Regions from separate parts of the Homo sapiens genome. Here region 2 is linked to region 1. A link means that fine-mapping ties the variant in region 1 to the expression of a gene that starts in the linked region. Tissue or cell type: tibial nerve. Region 1 holds a variant in brackets; the other region holds the start of a gene. All regions are shown on one strand. Distances are from middle to middle.

The links. PIP is the estimated chance that this variant, and not a neighbour inherited with it, causes the effect.
Region 2: BPHL starts here. The variant in region 1 is fine-mapped to the expression of BPHL in tibial nerve (GTEx, PIP 0.98).

Annotation. Positions count from the first base shown.
Region 1 is chr6:3,779,294-3,787,398 of GRCh38, reverse strand. LOC124901244 (a long non-coding RNA gene) reads left to right here. Exons shown (of 2, transcript XR_007059412.1): 2 at 1-440. Among named protein-coding and RNA genes, the nearest start is that of PXDC1, 32 kb to the right of the region's middle. The variant C/T (reference allele first, on the strand shown) is at 4,836.
Region 2 is chr6:3,114,335-3,122,439 of GRCh38, reverse strand. It overlaps BPHL (biphenyl hydrolase like), which reads right to left and starts at 3,729. Exons shown (of 7, transcript NM_004332.4): 1 at 3,593-3,729. The coding sequence starts at 3,699. RIPK1 (receptor interacting serine/threonine kinase 1) reads right to left here. Exons shown (of 11, transcript NM_001354930.2): 11 at 7,253-8,105. LOC107986556 (a long non-coding RNA gene) reads left to right here and starts at 3,793. Exons shown (of 4, transcript XR_001743928.3): 1 at 3,793-4,651. RefSeq lists a silencer at 3,432-3,821 and an enhancer at 3,860-4,495.

The DNA.
Region 1 (8,105 bases):
TAAAACTGATGGATTTCAAAGTACATGGTTTCTTGACCAGGTTTTTAAGGTGGCTCATTACTCTACAGACACAGTCTTAAAGCGGCTTCCTCAACGGCTTGACTCACTAACCTTGCTGAATGTCCATGACGAGTAGAACTCGGTGTATTCATTTTTTAACTGATACATAATAGTTGTACATATTGATGAGGTACATGTGATATTTTGATTTGTGCATACGATGCTTAATAATCAAATTAGAGTATTTAGGATAACCACCGCTTCAAACGTTTCTCATTCTCTGTGTGTCCTTGATACAAGTAATTTCTCTTTTAGAAATTCAACCTAAGGAAACCAAGCAGAGTCCACCTTTAAGCCCAGGATGACAGGAGTGACGACATCTGCTTTGACAAGCAGTCATAAAAGTATGTTTTTAAATAAATTCCAGCTTCATGGGAAAATTCTCACAATATAATATTAAATTAAAAAGCAGGATATAAAATTATCTACAGAATATACAGTATAAACCCAAGTGTGTAAGGAACACACACAACTACGTCAAGGCAACAGAATTGCCATTTGTAGTTGTGGAATTCTGAGCAATTTTATTTTCTAATGCATTTTTGTCACATGTGTGAATATATTACAAAAAGTTTTTTCAAAAAATAGGAAATTCCAGTTGGGTACGGTGGCTCACGCCTGTAATCTCAGCACTTTGGGAGGCTAAGGCAGGTGGATCACTTGAGATCAGGAGTTCAAGACCAGCCTGGCCAACATGGTAAAACCCCATCTCTACTAAAAATACAAAAATTAGCTGGGTGTGGTGGCATACGCCTCTCATCCCAACTACTGAGAAGGCTGAGGCAGGAGAATCACTTGAACCTGGGAGGCGAGGTTGCAGTGAGCCGAGATCACACCACTGCACTCCAGCCTGAGTGACAGAGAGAGACTCTGTCTAAAACAACAACAACAAATAAAAATAGGAAATTCCATGAACAAAATTAAAAGTGAAAAATGACACCAAAGAAAATTTTTGCAAGTGAAAAGTGACACCAAAGAAAAATTTTGCAATATACATGAGTCATAAGGTTGCTGTCCCTCATTTATAAAGAACACACATATATCGAAAAGCAAAATATTAACACTTACATAGAAAAATGGTAAAATACCCTGGGGCAGAGATCAGCTCTCCACCAAAACCTGCTTCCCTTTCTCTGCAGTCCTGGCCTTACGCTGGGTCAGCCTGCTCAGGACACTATGTTTTCTGTGTCTCTTGGAGTCTGGTGTGAGTTTGAGGTTCAGCTCTCTCCAGTGGAATGTGACAAAAGTGGGGTGCATGAATTTTATGTCTGGCCCCAAACCCTGGTAAGCAGGTTATAAAACAGTTAAATTCCATTTCCAAAACTTAGTATACAGTGCTGTCAGCACTTTACTGATACGAGCTCATTCCATCCTAACAACAACTCCGTGAAGCAGGAGAGGATCTCCCCACTTTAGAGATGAGAAAGCTGAGGCTAGAGACAAAGTTCACTCTGTGGCATGTGGTCTATTTCTGCATAGAAATGACGTGAAATGTGATACACACTAAAACATTACAGTGCTTATTTCTGAATTCTGACTACAAATACTGTGGTACATATGTTTTCTCAACAAACGTACCATCTGTAATTACACGTGAAATTTTTAAATAGTAAAAAAATTTAAATGACAGCAAAATAATTAGAGTTTTATGGACACTAGATTGCACAATTTAAGACAGTCGGCCAGGGCCGGGCACAGTGGCTCACGCCTGTAATCTCAGCACTTTGGGAGGCCGAGGCGGGTGGATCACCTGAGGTCATGAGTTCCAGACCAGTCTGGCCAACACGATGAAACCCTCTCTCTACTAAAAATGCAAAAATTAGTAGGGCGTGGTGGCGAGCGCCTGTAATCCCAGCAACTTGGGAGGCTGAAGCAGGAGGATTGCTTGAACCCAGGAGACGAATGTTGCAGTGAGCCGAGGTTGCACCACTGCACTCCAATAACTTTTAAGAGGAGTAGATTATATGTAAACCATCCCCATCTCCCTACTTTTTTTTGGTAATTCTAAACACAGAAAACACAATTTTGTCTGCCAAAATTGTAACCCAAGTGTATTAGTCCATTCTCACACTGCCGTGACGAAATACCGAGACCAGATAATTTATAAAGAAAAGAGGTTTAGTTGACTCACAGTTCTGCATTGCTGGAGAGACCTCAGGAAACCGACAGTCATGGCAGAAGGCAAAGGAGAAGCACGTACCTTCTTCACCGGGCGGCAGGACAGAGTGAGTGCAAGCGGGGAAAGGCCAGACGCTTCCGAGCCCGTCAGATCTCGTGAGAGCTCACTCACCATCACGAGAACAACATGGGGGAAACCGCCCCCATGATTCAATCACCTCCACCTGGCCCCGCCCTTGACCCTTGAGGATTATGGGGATTATAATTTGAGGTGAGATTTGGGTGAGGACACAGAGCCAAACTGTATCCCCAAGTCTGAAAGCTTTGAAAGGAGGACAGAAGGGCTGACAATCACTGGGAGGTCACAATCCACCCTGATCCTTCTGTCTAAGTGATATGGAACTGTGCCCCATTTTAAACCATCCTGCCTCCCAAAGGCTCCCACAGTGTCTTAGACACGCAACAGAAGGTGCTCGGAACTGGATATCCCTTGGCATGACGAAGTCAACAGCACCGCTGCCGGTTACAGGGTGACTGTGGTGAACGAACAGTGCCACTGTCACGGGAAAACACTGGGCACCGCTCTGTATGACGGAACGTGACCCTCTGACTCACATCCACCTGTGATAGGGAGGCCTACCTACCTGGGCTGCCCATGCCGGCCGCTGAGCTTGTGACAGATGCACCTATACTAACAAGTTCTAAATCAGCAAACTTTTTCTGTAAAGTGCCAGAGAGTGAATATTTTAGGCTTTCAGGCCATACAGTCTCTGTTGCATCCCTGCCTCATAGTGTGAGTGTGGTATGGCTGTGTCTCAATAAAACTCTCTTTTTTTTTTTTTTTTTTTTGAGGCAGAGTCTTGCTCTGTCACCCAGGCTGGAGTGCAGTGGTGTGATCTCGGCTCACTACAACCTCCGCCTTCCAGGTTCAAGCAATTCTCCTGCCTCAGACCCCCGAGTAGCTGGGATTACAGGCATGTGCCACCATGCCCGGCCAAATTTTTGTATTTTTAGTAGAAATGGAGTTTCACCGTGTTTGCCAGGATGGCCTTGATCTCCTGAACCTTGTGATCTGCCTGCCTTGGCCTCCCAAAGTGCTGGGATTACAGGCATGAGCCACTGTGTCCAGCCAATAAACTCTTTTTACAGCCGGGCACAGTGGCTTATGCCTGTAATCCCAGCACTTTGTGAGGCAGAGGCAGGCGGATCACCTGAGGTCAGGAGTTCGAGACCAGCCTGACCAACATGGTGAAACCCCATCTCTACTAAAAATATCTTTAAAATTATCCAGGCATGGTGGCACATGCCTGTAATCCCAGCTATTCCGGAGGCTGAGGCAGGAGAATCGCTTGAACCCGGGAGGTTCAAAACAAAAAAACAAAACAAACAAAAACAAAAACTCTTTTTACAAAGACTGGCCCGACAATTCATCCACCTAACCGAAAACCAGTTGCACCCCAAAGGCTATTGAAATTTTAAAAACTGGCCAACCTTCCATGGTTTGCCACACTGTGATACACTTGTGCCCTTGCCCTCCAAGGGTGGCACCTGGATCAGCAGCACCAGCCTCTCCTGAGAGCGAGTCAGAAACGCGGAAATCACGCCCCTCCCCAGACCTACTGAGTCAAGATGTGCGTTTGAAGAAGATCCCTGGTGATTGGTGTGCACATTACAGTGTGAGAAGTCCCGGCGGAGAGCAGATGCTCAAGCCCAGCCGCTCCTTGGTATCTCCTGGGGAGGTTTAAAAACATACTGATGCCCTGAGATTCTGATTTGGTACTGGGTAGAGTCCAGGCACGGGGATTCTGGAAAGCTTCCAGGATTGTCATATGTGGTCAGAAGTGAGACTAAATAGAGATGGTCACCTGAACATACCCAGTGGTGACTCAATGATGAAAACACTGCCTCTCAGAAAGATGGATAAAACACTCAGCAGCCCTGGCTTGGCTGTCGAGATGCCCATTTGTTTCTACCTTGCCAGGGTGCTGGCCTGCACCCAGCCCCAGGGAGGGGCCCCCTGCCCACTCGTGGTCTCCTGAGCCGGTTCTTGTGTGGCTTTCACAACCAGTCCATGGAGGACAGAGAGTCCTGGGAGCCAGGCCCAGCCACGTGCAGAGCAAGAAGCCAGGTGCTGTGATTTAGCTCCTGGAGACCATGGAAATACTTAGATGTCATTGATCCAGATAGAATGGATGACTGTGAAGTCAGGACAGATCATGTGATCAGAAAGCTTAACCCTGAATTTCATCACAGAACATATTTATAAAAAGAACAAACACGAAGCTGCTGGACGCCAGATGGAGTTCTTTAGAAATTTCCTGGGAGGAGGGTGGGGGTGGGCAGTCATCACAGCACATGCTGCCGTGGATCTGTTTGGGGGACCACCAAAGGCGAGGCATCCGTGAGAGCTAAAGATGCATTAGGAAACAGGATGCCACTTGTGCAGACTCTGGCTGTGGCACCGTGAACTGAGGACGGCAACACACCTTGGTAGTGGTGTGCAAACCTGCTCCCAGGAAGCCTGAGGGTGAACTCCTGGGCAGCCTAGAGAGGTTGGAATCAGGAATCCCTGCTCCTTCTCTCCAACCCAAAATCTGCAGCCCCCTCCCGAAAAACTACTGTGCAAGGGTGCAAAGGAAACGCATGGTCCCCCCATT[C/T]GCCTTGCGATCACAGCAGCCCCCTTCGTTGCCCCAGCTCCTTCCACACTGGCAGACGGTCTGACCTCTCAGGTCTTCGTCGGCCCAGACACACCTGTGGGCCCTGAAATCAGATGACTAAGCCTCTAACTAAGCTCGCTTAACCATCAGGTCCCATCCACAGATTCGACTTGTGTTTATTTTGGGGAGTCAGCTTTGTTCTTTCACAGATTTTTGGGTGCAGATTTTGGGGTTAAATATTCACAGTGTGAATATTTAAAACGTCTGGCCACAGCATCATAATCAGCCCAAAGCGAGGGCTCAGACGTTCATACCTTGGGAGACTTATCTGGCTTATTATTCCCCAAGTCTGGGGAAGAGAGTGACTTGGAGACTTTGGACAGGAAGTTAGTGTCCGTCCTCTGAAATTGTTTGGCATGGGAAACCGCATCAGAACAAAAAGAGAGGCGATCCTACATTGTATTGTCCAGGGAGGGCTGGCAGGCATACCCTGGGCAGCTCTGGGCAAACCAGACATGTGGTCACTCTACCACACCCTACCATCACGCCACGTCGCCATGTCCTTTGGTAGAATGTTGAGATTCGTTGTGCCTTGTTTGGTCGGGACGAAGTGCATTCAGCATCCATGCAACCTTCACAGCACGTACATTTCTCTAACAGGCCACCGCAGCCTTATTTGATCACATCCGTTGTGCTATACAGAAATTACTCCATTTTTCTTCTACATCTTCCTTCTATATAGTTTTGTCTATAAAAAGCTAATGGTAGTGTCAGGCCACTGTCCTTTGGAGGGATGAGGAAGCTCTTCTCACACACAGCTCAGAAAATGATTTACGGCAAAGACCCACGTTGGAGGCCTCTCAGTATACATTTGTGCTGACGCAAGCTGCCCTTGGGAGCCATTTCGATGGGTAAAAATGCTCGTTTCTAGTGTTTCCAAGATACCATGAACCAGATTGCCTCATGTGGTGAAAAGGGAGGAGTAAATGTCCCCAAATGAACGGTTTTTAAATAATTGTGTAGGGAGATTTGCTGTAGGGAGACTGAATAGCCCAGCTCTTGGGACAAACTGGAGATAGGAACCATTTGCAGGCAGGCAAATGTTTACTAGGTTTAAAGAGCAGGAGGTGCAGCTAAACAGCTAGAGAAACACTTGTGTGGTATTGCCACTGTGGGGATGCTTCCCTAAAGGAATGATATCTGGGATCATTGATAAAACTGGGAAATTAAAGAGTAAGTTTCATCCATTTATTTGCTATATGGCCTTGATGACAATACCTCACTTTCCTTCACCTGTAGAGTTTGAGTAATAGTAGTATGCCCACCCCTGAGGGGTACAATTGGATCATGCACACAGGACTTTCTTGGCACCGGTGCAGGGCACAGGGCACATTGGAAGGGCTTGGTAAATACCAGCTGTTAATAGTGTATCATTTAATGACTTCCTCATGATCGGTCCCTCCAAATGTGTGAGAGTGACACCTGCTTCATCCCTTCCCTGGAGATGCTGTCTGTCTCCAATCACTGAGCCCCTGCGTGTCCGGGAGGTTGGAGAATCCACAGAAATCCTATCCAAGGGGCCTCTTCATTGCTGTGGCTCGATTGTGCTGCCTTGGGGCCTGAGGCCTCTCCTAAGTCACAGACCTGCATCCAGCAAACTGTGTCGGCCTTCACCCCAGTGTCCCCAGAGACTTCAACATCCCCATATGCCACACCGGCATCATCATTTTTTCTCCCCAGTCTCTGCTCATTCCTGTGGTCTCTGTCAGAGAATGGCGCCCCTGGCTTCCCACCACCCTGGCAGGAAAGCTGCATACAGGTTGCTTCTACTCACTCTCCCTTTCTCTCTCCCTTGCTTTTCTCATCAGCAGGTCACTGGGTTGCCAGGGGTTCTGCTTCCTCCCACCTGCCTCTTTTAGACTCCCCACCCAGAGGCTTTTAACACTGACTGCCAGTCCAGTGCTGGTATAAGAAACTGGGACTCTGCACACTTTGTGGTCCACGACTCCTGCAGGGTGGGGCTGATGTCACCTTCACAGGACTTCCACCCAAGGCTGCAGCCTTGAGAGGCTTCCTCCTTCCCCGGCCTGCTCCCCACTCTCTCACAGGTAGGTCTCCCCAGGATTAATTCCTTGATAAAGCTCTTGCATGTGAATATATGTCTCAGGGTCTACTTCTGGTGCACCTGACCTCAGGCACCTCACACTCCGAGTAGACAAGTCTACACGCCATCGGGTCAGTACCCTCTGTTCTATCTCCACTCCATGAGATCCGCCCCTCTGAGATGTTCTTCCTTGCTTTTCTCGCTGCTGGCCCTACCGATACTCAAGGCCCCTTCCAATGGTGTACCCCAGGAAACCTCTCCCGGTTGGCTCACCCTCCCTCTGACTTCAGCTGAGTGCAACTGGGCTGTGTGCTGTCCCTGACCTGAGGCCCTGGGCATATGGTCCGCACTCAGCACCAGCCCTGCCATGTCAGGGAGGGAAGGCATGGGTATCCCTCCACCCTACTTGTGTACATAGGTAAGAGCATGCTCAATTTACTTTACATCTTCTCTTTGTCAAGCTCCTGGATCATTCCAGTTGCTCAGCAAACCTCTTTTTTCAGCCCTGGTAAGAGTCAGGGCTGAAATTTCCCATGTCCCACCCAGTAAGGCCATGGAGACAGTGAAAACATTGGGGTGCGTTCACGCGGGTTGGTACTGTACCCTGGCCACCCGGCCTCTCCCCAGCCCCCTAGATCTCTCCATGAGCCCACATTTAAAGGGTGACCTTGTCACAGCAGAGAGCTTGGGTACCTGCCCCAGCATCTCAGCAAATGGCCAGTCCAGTCCTTCTGTGCATGTGCCTGGCATGTTGTTAAATATTTTGTGGCATAAGTTCTATTTGTGTTGATAGTTTCAGGTAAGAACAAACAGAAGTAGCCAGCGCCATTACCGCGGAGATCCCCAGGGCCAGCGCACAGCGACCTGTGCCTCTTGGTCCTTTCCTCCCCAAATCAGCCCTGGCGCCCTGGCAGATGAGAATCAGATGCTCAGCACCCCCACAGCAACAGTGAGGCAGCTCTGGCAATAAGCAAAAATGGTGGGCGGCAGCCTCCTGGAGCACGCCGGGTCCCTGACAGTAGGGAAAGAAAGCTTTCTACCTAACACCTCTCCTCCAGGACAGTTAGAACAAGTGTGGTCTGGACCCAGAGCATTGGAAGGAGTCTGCTGCCAGCCAAAGGGCAAGCTGTTGCCCCTACCGAGCAGCCCTGCAGAGAGGCTGGCAC
Region 2 (8,105 bases), 660 kb after region 1:
CACAGCTTATCAGACAGATGACTGAGTGAAGCACAGGAGGGACATGATGGCAAGCCAGGACAGATGCCAGAAGGAGGCGCTCTCTTCTCCTGGTGGAGTGCCAATACAATGAAATCAACCACCATCTCCTTTTATTTTTATTTTTATTTATTTATTTTTTGAGATGGAGTCTCACTCTGTCGCCCAGGCTGGAGTGCAGTGGCGCCATCTCGGCTCACTGCAAGTTCCACCTCCCGGGTTCACACCATTCTCCTGCCTCAGCCTCCCAAGTAGCTGGGACTACAGGCACCCGCCACCACGCCCGGCTAATTTTTTTGTATTTTTAGTAGAGACGGGGTTTCACCCTGTTAGCCAGGATGGTCTCAATCTCCTGACCTCGTGATCTGCCTGCCTCAGCCTCCCTAAGCGCTGGGATTACAGGCCCGGCCCATCTCCTTTTTCTTCTACATACTCTCTACTCCTACCTCTGCCCTTAGTCAAAGGATAACTGAAACACAGCCCTTTTGAAAAAATGAGGTCCTGTTTTATCTTTTGGTTTAATCTTATTTGCCAGTCTCAAGTAAAAAAGAAACAAACGTGGAAACAGATGTGTTGAATACAGGTACATCTACTCTTAACATACCATTTCTGGAAAAATAAAAGACAGAATTGGGTAGTAATAAGGTCTGACTAAACTATAAGCTCCTTATCTACAGAAATATTATTAAAGGGGCATCAATGAAGCCACCAAGCAATGGCAATACTGACTCTGCCATTTACTTATTATGATTACTGCCCTATTCCTCTGAGAAATTCATTTCTACAGTTAAGATAGCTTAGGATCGGCCAGGTGTGGTGGCTCACACCTGTAATCCCGATACTTTGGGCGGCCCAGGTGGGTGGATCACGAGGTCAGGATCACGAGGTCAGGAGATCAAGACCATCCTGCCCAACATGGTGGAACGCCATCTCTACTAAAATACACACAAAAAAATTAGCCCGGCATGGTGGTGCACACCTGTAATCCCAGCTACTCAGAAGGCTGAGGCAGGGGAATCGCTGGAACCTGGGAGGTGAAGATTACAGTGAGCCGAGATCGTGCCACTGCACTCCAGCCTGGTGACAGAGAGAGACTCCGTCTCAAAAAAAAAAAAAAAAAAAAAAAAAAAGAAACTGCTATTATCATATTGTATGTTCAGCTATTTCTTTTGTGTATGTTTTGTGAAGTAGCCATTATCTACAATAAAGTATTTGCTACCTTCAGGGCTTGAAATTTGCATGAATCTTGATGAATTATTTTTACATCTCTTATATATTGTACTATTATATAAATATTCCCATTGTGCCTACTAATTACTTCATGTTTATTATATCCCCAGGCTTTTACATTTATTGTTTCAAATCCTCACAAAAACGCTGCAAGGCAGGAGGCTCAGAGAGGTTGAACAATCTGCCCACACTCACAGAGCTAGGAAGTGGCCACGGGGCCATTAGAACTCCAGAGGCCATGATTCCTCTCTAACCTCATGGCTGAACAGAGTCCTAAGAGGGCTCAGGCACCGGGGCCACACTCTGACTGCCAGATACAGCGTGGTGGCAAGCGTCAGCAGAAGGACAGTCTCTGATTCTCTGGCAGGGCATCCCAAGGTTGAACTTGGAAAATATTTTTTAGGAAGATTGTTAGGTTATGTGAATTATTAATATTTATAACTGCACATAATATCCAATTTCAGGTAGAAAAGGCTTTTCTTGACCTGACCCAGGAATAAATCACCTTACGGATTTTGAAATAAGGGTCAAAGTTCCAAACAGCAGACTTACAAACAAGTTTTTGGAACAAAAGTCAGTTGTAGGTTGGGCACTGGCTATTCTGAAGCAAAGTTTTTACACGAATCCTTTTACCTACTGACACTGAGCTACAGCTGCATTTCAGGATTAACTAATACCACTGCTTGTTTTCCCAGATTATATGTCATATCAACTTGCAGCTGCATTTATAAAACGGCCGTACAAAATCCAGAAAAACCTGTTTCTTCAGAGATATTTTAGGAAGAATGATCTGCAATGCAACTAGATGGATGGGGCCTTCCTCAACCATTAAATAACCTATCAGAACTATACTGGTAGGCCGAGAGCGGTGGCTCACGCCTGTAATCCCAGCACTTTGGGAGGCTGAGGCAGGTGGATCATTTGAGGTCAAGAGTTCGAGATCAGCTTGGCCAACATGGTGAAACCCCATCTCTACTAAAAACACAAAAATTAGCCGGGCATGGTGGCAGGTACCTGTAATCCCAGCTACTCGGGAGGCTGAGGCCACGAGAATCGCTTAAACCTGGGAGGCAGAGGTTGCAGTGAGCGAGATCACAACACTGCACTCCAGCATGGGCAAAAGAGCGAGAGTCAGTCTCAAAAAAAAAAAGAACTATATTGGTACAATCACAGTAACTTATTTCGATGCCTTTCTGCAGACAGGAAACTGGAAAAAATAATCATTTTCACTGTTAATTTATACAGCTGTAGCCATTAACATGTTTTTCCATCTATCAAAATAGCCCTGACCATCTTATAATAATTCTAAAATTAAAGGAGCTAGTCAATTGCAATATGAAATTTTAAAAGCTGGTCAGATTTGCCCTCTTTTCTCCTTCTAAATCAAGTTTTCAAACTAAAAGTTTCTATGTTGGATCAAGTACAGTTCTAAACGCTGTGTACCTATCTAGTACTGACTTTATGAAAGTAGCCCATCAACAGTCAACTGCGCACATGCACTGTGTACGTTCGTTGTATACGTGTGTTTGCATGTGTGTAGGGATGTATGTAGAGAATAAAGTAAAACAAGCTTCATGCCGCTCTATCCACATTTCTGCCCAGTATCTCTTGGGACCAAGAGTATCCATTTTCAAGACAGAAGGTCAGAAATTAATCCAGTTTTTTTGTTATTGTTTTACCTGAAATGGGGGGACAGGTGGGAGGACAAAAGAGAATAAAGCAGATTCCTGGGCATCTCCACACATGTAGATCAGATCCTCTGGGAGTGAGGCCCAGGATTCTGAATTTTCAGTTCCCAACGTGATTCTTTTGCACATTAAGGTACGAGATCAGCAAGCAAAGAGAAGACTTAGGGCTCTCGGGACCCGTGATTAAAGCCTTAGCGGTACTCAGGCTCAGGCTGATTTCTGACATAAGAGAAAGAAGAGATTATTGTCCTTATGCCCTTAGTGTGGACTCTGGACAGAGCAATGGACTAATGAGGGCGTTGGGATTCTAGTCCGTGCTCCGTCACGGGTGAGTCCATACTACAGGCAAATGTATCTCCCTGGGTCTCTCTGGTCTGCACACTGAAGGGGCTGCACTCTATAGCCCAAGCCTCCACGGCTCCAGACTCCTTGAACTGAGGCTGACCGAGGCGCATGCACGATCGAGGGGCTCGAGCACCAAGCGCGGCTGGCCCCCAGGATCGGGGTCTCGCGGCACAAAGGGCGACAGGGCAGCCAGGCCGCGCCCACGCCCCGTGCCCGCGCGCCGGGAACTCCTGCTGTCGGCACGCGCCCCTCCCGCCGCCCCTCGAGCGCGCCGATGCTGGGGATCCCCGGGGCGAGGTGGCCGCCATTACCCGAACGCGGCCGCGGGTCCGGCCCGTGGGACGTGGATCCCGGGCTTCAGCGCTGAGAGAAGCAGCCGCAGGCGCAACACGCCCCGGCCGCCCAGCACAGCCACCATGGTCACAGGTCGCGTAGCTGCCGGGAGTGCGCATGCGCTAAGACCAAGCGCGGTACCCGGCCCACTCTGCCCCGAAGCCACGCCCTCTGCTCCGCCCACCTCGCCTCTCCATCCTGCTCCGCCCTCTGCCCGCCCCGCCCCGAAGCCACGCCCTGCCGGGTGCTTTCCCATGGGCGACCGAAACTCGGCTCGTGGTTTCGCAGTCCTGGAACCGCCGGCACCCGCGTAGACCGTCCCCTCTCGGTGCTGGCTCTGGCTCCCGGGATGAGTGTCCCCGTCGGCGCTGCCCCGCCCTCGCTCGTCGCCTCAGCGACCATGGCCTTTCCAGGAGGCGAGGCCGCCAGCCATAGCGCCCTCGCTGCGTCGGCGTCCAGGCGGGACTCCGGAGTGGGCGGGGCTCCGGCTCTAGGCAGGCTGCTATGTTGGATCAAGTAAAGTTCTAAACGCTGTGCACCTATTTAGTACTGACTAGTACTAGGAAGTGTATTTGCTTTTCGGAGATGATGGGATCTAAATTTTGTTTATACCACTTCACGCCCATTAGGATGGCTACTAGCAAAACCCCCAGAAATTAGTGTTGGTGAAGATGTAGAGAAATTGAAGCCCTTGTATATTGCTGTTGGGAATGTAAAATGGTGCAGCCATGTGATGAACAATACTGCGGTTCCTCAACAAATCAGTTATATGATCCAGCATTTTCTTTTCTGGGTATATAACCCAAAAGAATTTAAAACAGGGTGTACAAGAAGAAATGTTTTTACACTCACGTTGACAGCGGCACTATTCACAATAGCCAAAAGGGTGGAGGCAATTTAAGTGTCCAAAAACAGATACATGGATAAGCAAAATGTTGTCTGTGCATGCAAGGGAACATTTTTTAGCCTGAACAAAGAACGAAATTCTGACACTTGCTACTACATGGATGAACCTGGAGGACACTATGCTGAGGGAGGTAAGCCAGTCAAAAAAAGACAAATACTGTGTGATTCCACTTATATAATAAGGTACCTAGAGGAGTCAAACTTATAGGGACAGAAAATAGAATGGGGGTTGTTGAGGGCTGGTGGAAGGGGGAATGGAAAGTTGGTGTTTCATGGGGACAGAGTTTCAGTTTGGAGAGATGAAAAAGTCCTGGGGATGGATTTTGGTGATGCCTGCATTACATTGTGAGTGTACTTACTGCCACTGAACTACACACCTAAAAGTGGTTTAAGTGGTAAGTTTTATGTATGTTTTACCACAATTAATTTTTTTTCTTTTGGCTGTATAATTGCAGCTTTATAAAGGTTATAGACATTATCTAATTGAAAGCTCAGTGGAGAAAAAAAACAACTATTGCTTTTTAAGTCAATCGTTCTGCCTTAATTGGAAATAACTGGCAGATTTGTGGCTACTGTTGTAGCCTTGGCTTGAATAATTGGAGACAACAGCTTCTTTGCATATTGCATTTCTTCTCCTCCAAGAGACCTTTTTGGTGTAACAGTCAGTCCTGTGAGCACAGTGCTTGTAGGTGTTACACTCATAGAAATTTCTGTCACCTGCAGTGTCCTCACTGGCCCATTGGACTTTCTTGAGTAGTAAAGGCAGTTTTGGCCTAAATACAGACTATGCAAAAGTTTTCATATTCTACTCTCAACATAAATCTATCACATTAATTCCTGCATAAAAGGAAAGAGACATATATAATGTTTGAGTTTAATATCGTTTGACTTTCAGAAATCTTTGGTGAGGTCAGTATTTCCTTTTTTCCTGATATGTTGATTGGGGTTTCATCTCAGAAATGATAAAAATAGCTGTCTGTACAGTTTCAACACCAGTTACCCTTGTGCTAATAAAAAACGGTAGCACTGAGTTTTAGGTTATTGGTGTCACAATTTTTTTTTTTTGAGACGGAGTTTTGGTCTTGTTGCCCAGGCTGGAGTGCAATGGCGCAATCTCAGCTCACTGTAACCTCTGCCTCGCAGGTTCAAGCAATTCTCCTGCCTCAGCCTCCTGAGTAGCTGAGATTACAAGCACCCGCCACCATGCCCGGCTAATTTTTGTAATTTTAGTAGAGACGAGGTTTTGCCATGTTGGCCAGGCTGGTCTCAAACTCCTGACCTCAGGTGATCCACCCGCCTCAGCCTCCTAAAGTGCTAGGATTACAGGTGTGTGCCACCGCGTCCAGCGTGGTGTCACTATTTTTAAGTAACATACCTGACAACCAGTTCTTTATATATAGCAAGATCGTACAGTTTAAAAAAACTGCCATTTTTGTGCCAGGCACCTTATGATATATCATATTTCTTTAATCTTCACATTAGCCTTCTGTGCTATTGCACTCTCCATTTATAGATGAGGCAACTGAGGCTAAGAAAGGTTAGGAAGCAAGCCCTAGGTAACACAGCTGAAAAGTAATTTTGAGCTGCTCAATTTCAGGACTCTATACTTGCATAATGACGGCGAAAGGTTAGGAAGCAAGGCCTGGGTAACACAGCTGAGAAGGGGCAGGGGGGAGTTTTGAGCTCTCAATTTCAGGACTCTATACTTGATGATGATGATGATGATTGCTATTATTATTGAGGCACGGTGTGATCACAGCTCCCCACAGCCTCAAACTCCTGGGCTCAAGTGATCCTCCCACCTTAGCCTGCCAAGAAGCTAGGACTACAGGCATACACCACCACACCTGGCTAATATTTTTTAATGTTTTTGTGGAGATAGGGTCTTGCTGTGTTGTCCACACTGGTCTCGAACTCATGGCCTCAAGCGATCCTCCCAGCTTGGCCTCCCAAAGTGCTGGGATTACAGGCATGAGCCACTATACCTGGTCGTATACTTGGATTATTGCATATTGTAAAAATCACTGTAGTAGCATTAACCTTTCAGTGATTTCTCTGAAATCAGCTGCTTCTAAAATCTTGAATATTTACACTATTTATGCCTTTATTATAATTAGAAAACCCTTTCCCTTTCATAAATACCACACATTAAAATGTACATCAAAATACTGCCTAAAATATTTTGTGATTTATTAAACATTTTATTCCTGAAACCCTAACCTCACGTGACAGACCCAAAGCAAAGATGATGATTGTAGCAACAAGTAGAAAATCTACCAAGCAGGACTGTGGGAGCTGGAAGGAGGTCTCCGTTACCAGCAATAACCTAGGGTGTGAGTATTTGTTTCCGAACCAAGTGCGGACAGTCTCGGTTCTGCTTTGCTGGTCTGTGTCGTCATTGGCTCTGCCCATTAACAGCAGTGTTCTTGTGGAGCTTGGGCCTTGTACCTAACTCCTCACAGGCAAACTTGGTTCTTCTCACCATGGTGCTGAGAGAGTGGGGGTGAAGGGAAGGCCCCAGAGCCAGGCGCGGGGACAGCAGTGCTGCAGGCCTCTCATCCTGAGCGCCAAAATGCACTGGCAGGGAGGTGTTCTTACCATCAGCATCCCGTCTCCTGCTTGGCAGCGGGAGGGTAAAAGGGGATTATGCTCAGGAAATGCGGCCTCAGTGGCAGAGGCACCATGGAGAATCCGCATCTGTCCCAGTGACACATCACATCAATAGCCTAAAGTTGTGGTATAAATTTTTATTTTAAAAAGTGTTAAAAAATGCCTTGCCCTCTTGCCTTTGAACATTAATTATTCAACCTCTTTGGAATCTAAGAGATTTGATAACACCATTTGGATGGTGGTACAAGGAGCAAACAGAACTCACCCAGGCCCCTCCAGCAAAGCCTGGAGCCTCCCTCCATTCTCCCTTTTGGGCTGTAGGAGCCAAGGCTGCGTGGTGGCCAAGTAGTAACCGGACAGGTGCAGACAGGAGAGCCGAGGCTCATTACTTTACAGCAGTGCTCTTCTCAACCGGGGCAATTTTCCCCTTTCCTTGGACCATTTGACAATGTTTAGAGACTATTGTCACAACTGGGGCGGGGGGCTGGGGAGAACAGTGCCCCTGGCATCTAGTAGGTGGGGGCAGGGATGCTACTAAACATCCTACAAGGAACAGGACAGTCCCCACAACAGAATTACCCAGGCCGAGATGCCGACAGTGGCAAGGCTGAGACAGCCTGCTCTGCAGCCCCATTTCAGGGGTGTGTATGTGTCTGCTAGAGTTGAGGGGATTCACAATCAGAATCAACAACACTGTTATCAGCCCAAGACACCAGAATCTGTTCCGACAGCCAGATTGACCATCACCACACCCTTCTCGCCCTCCCTCTGGGGAGAGCTAAGCACACAGCCTTCCTTGTCGGTTTAGCAAAATGCCAGTGGACACTGAGCGGCCTACCCAGCTTCAGTCTTCTATTCTAGTTCTTTCATCCACCCCCAGGTTTCAGGTGGGCTTTGAAAGGCTGGGTGCTAGAGGCACAATTACCACACTCAGAAGCTGTCCTTTTTCACTCTGGCACACAGAAAAAATATGAA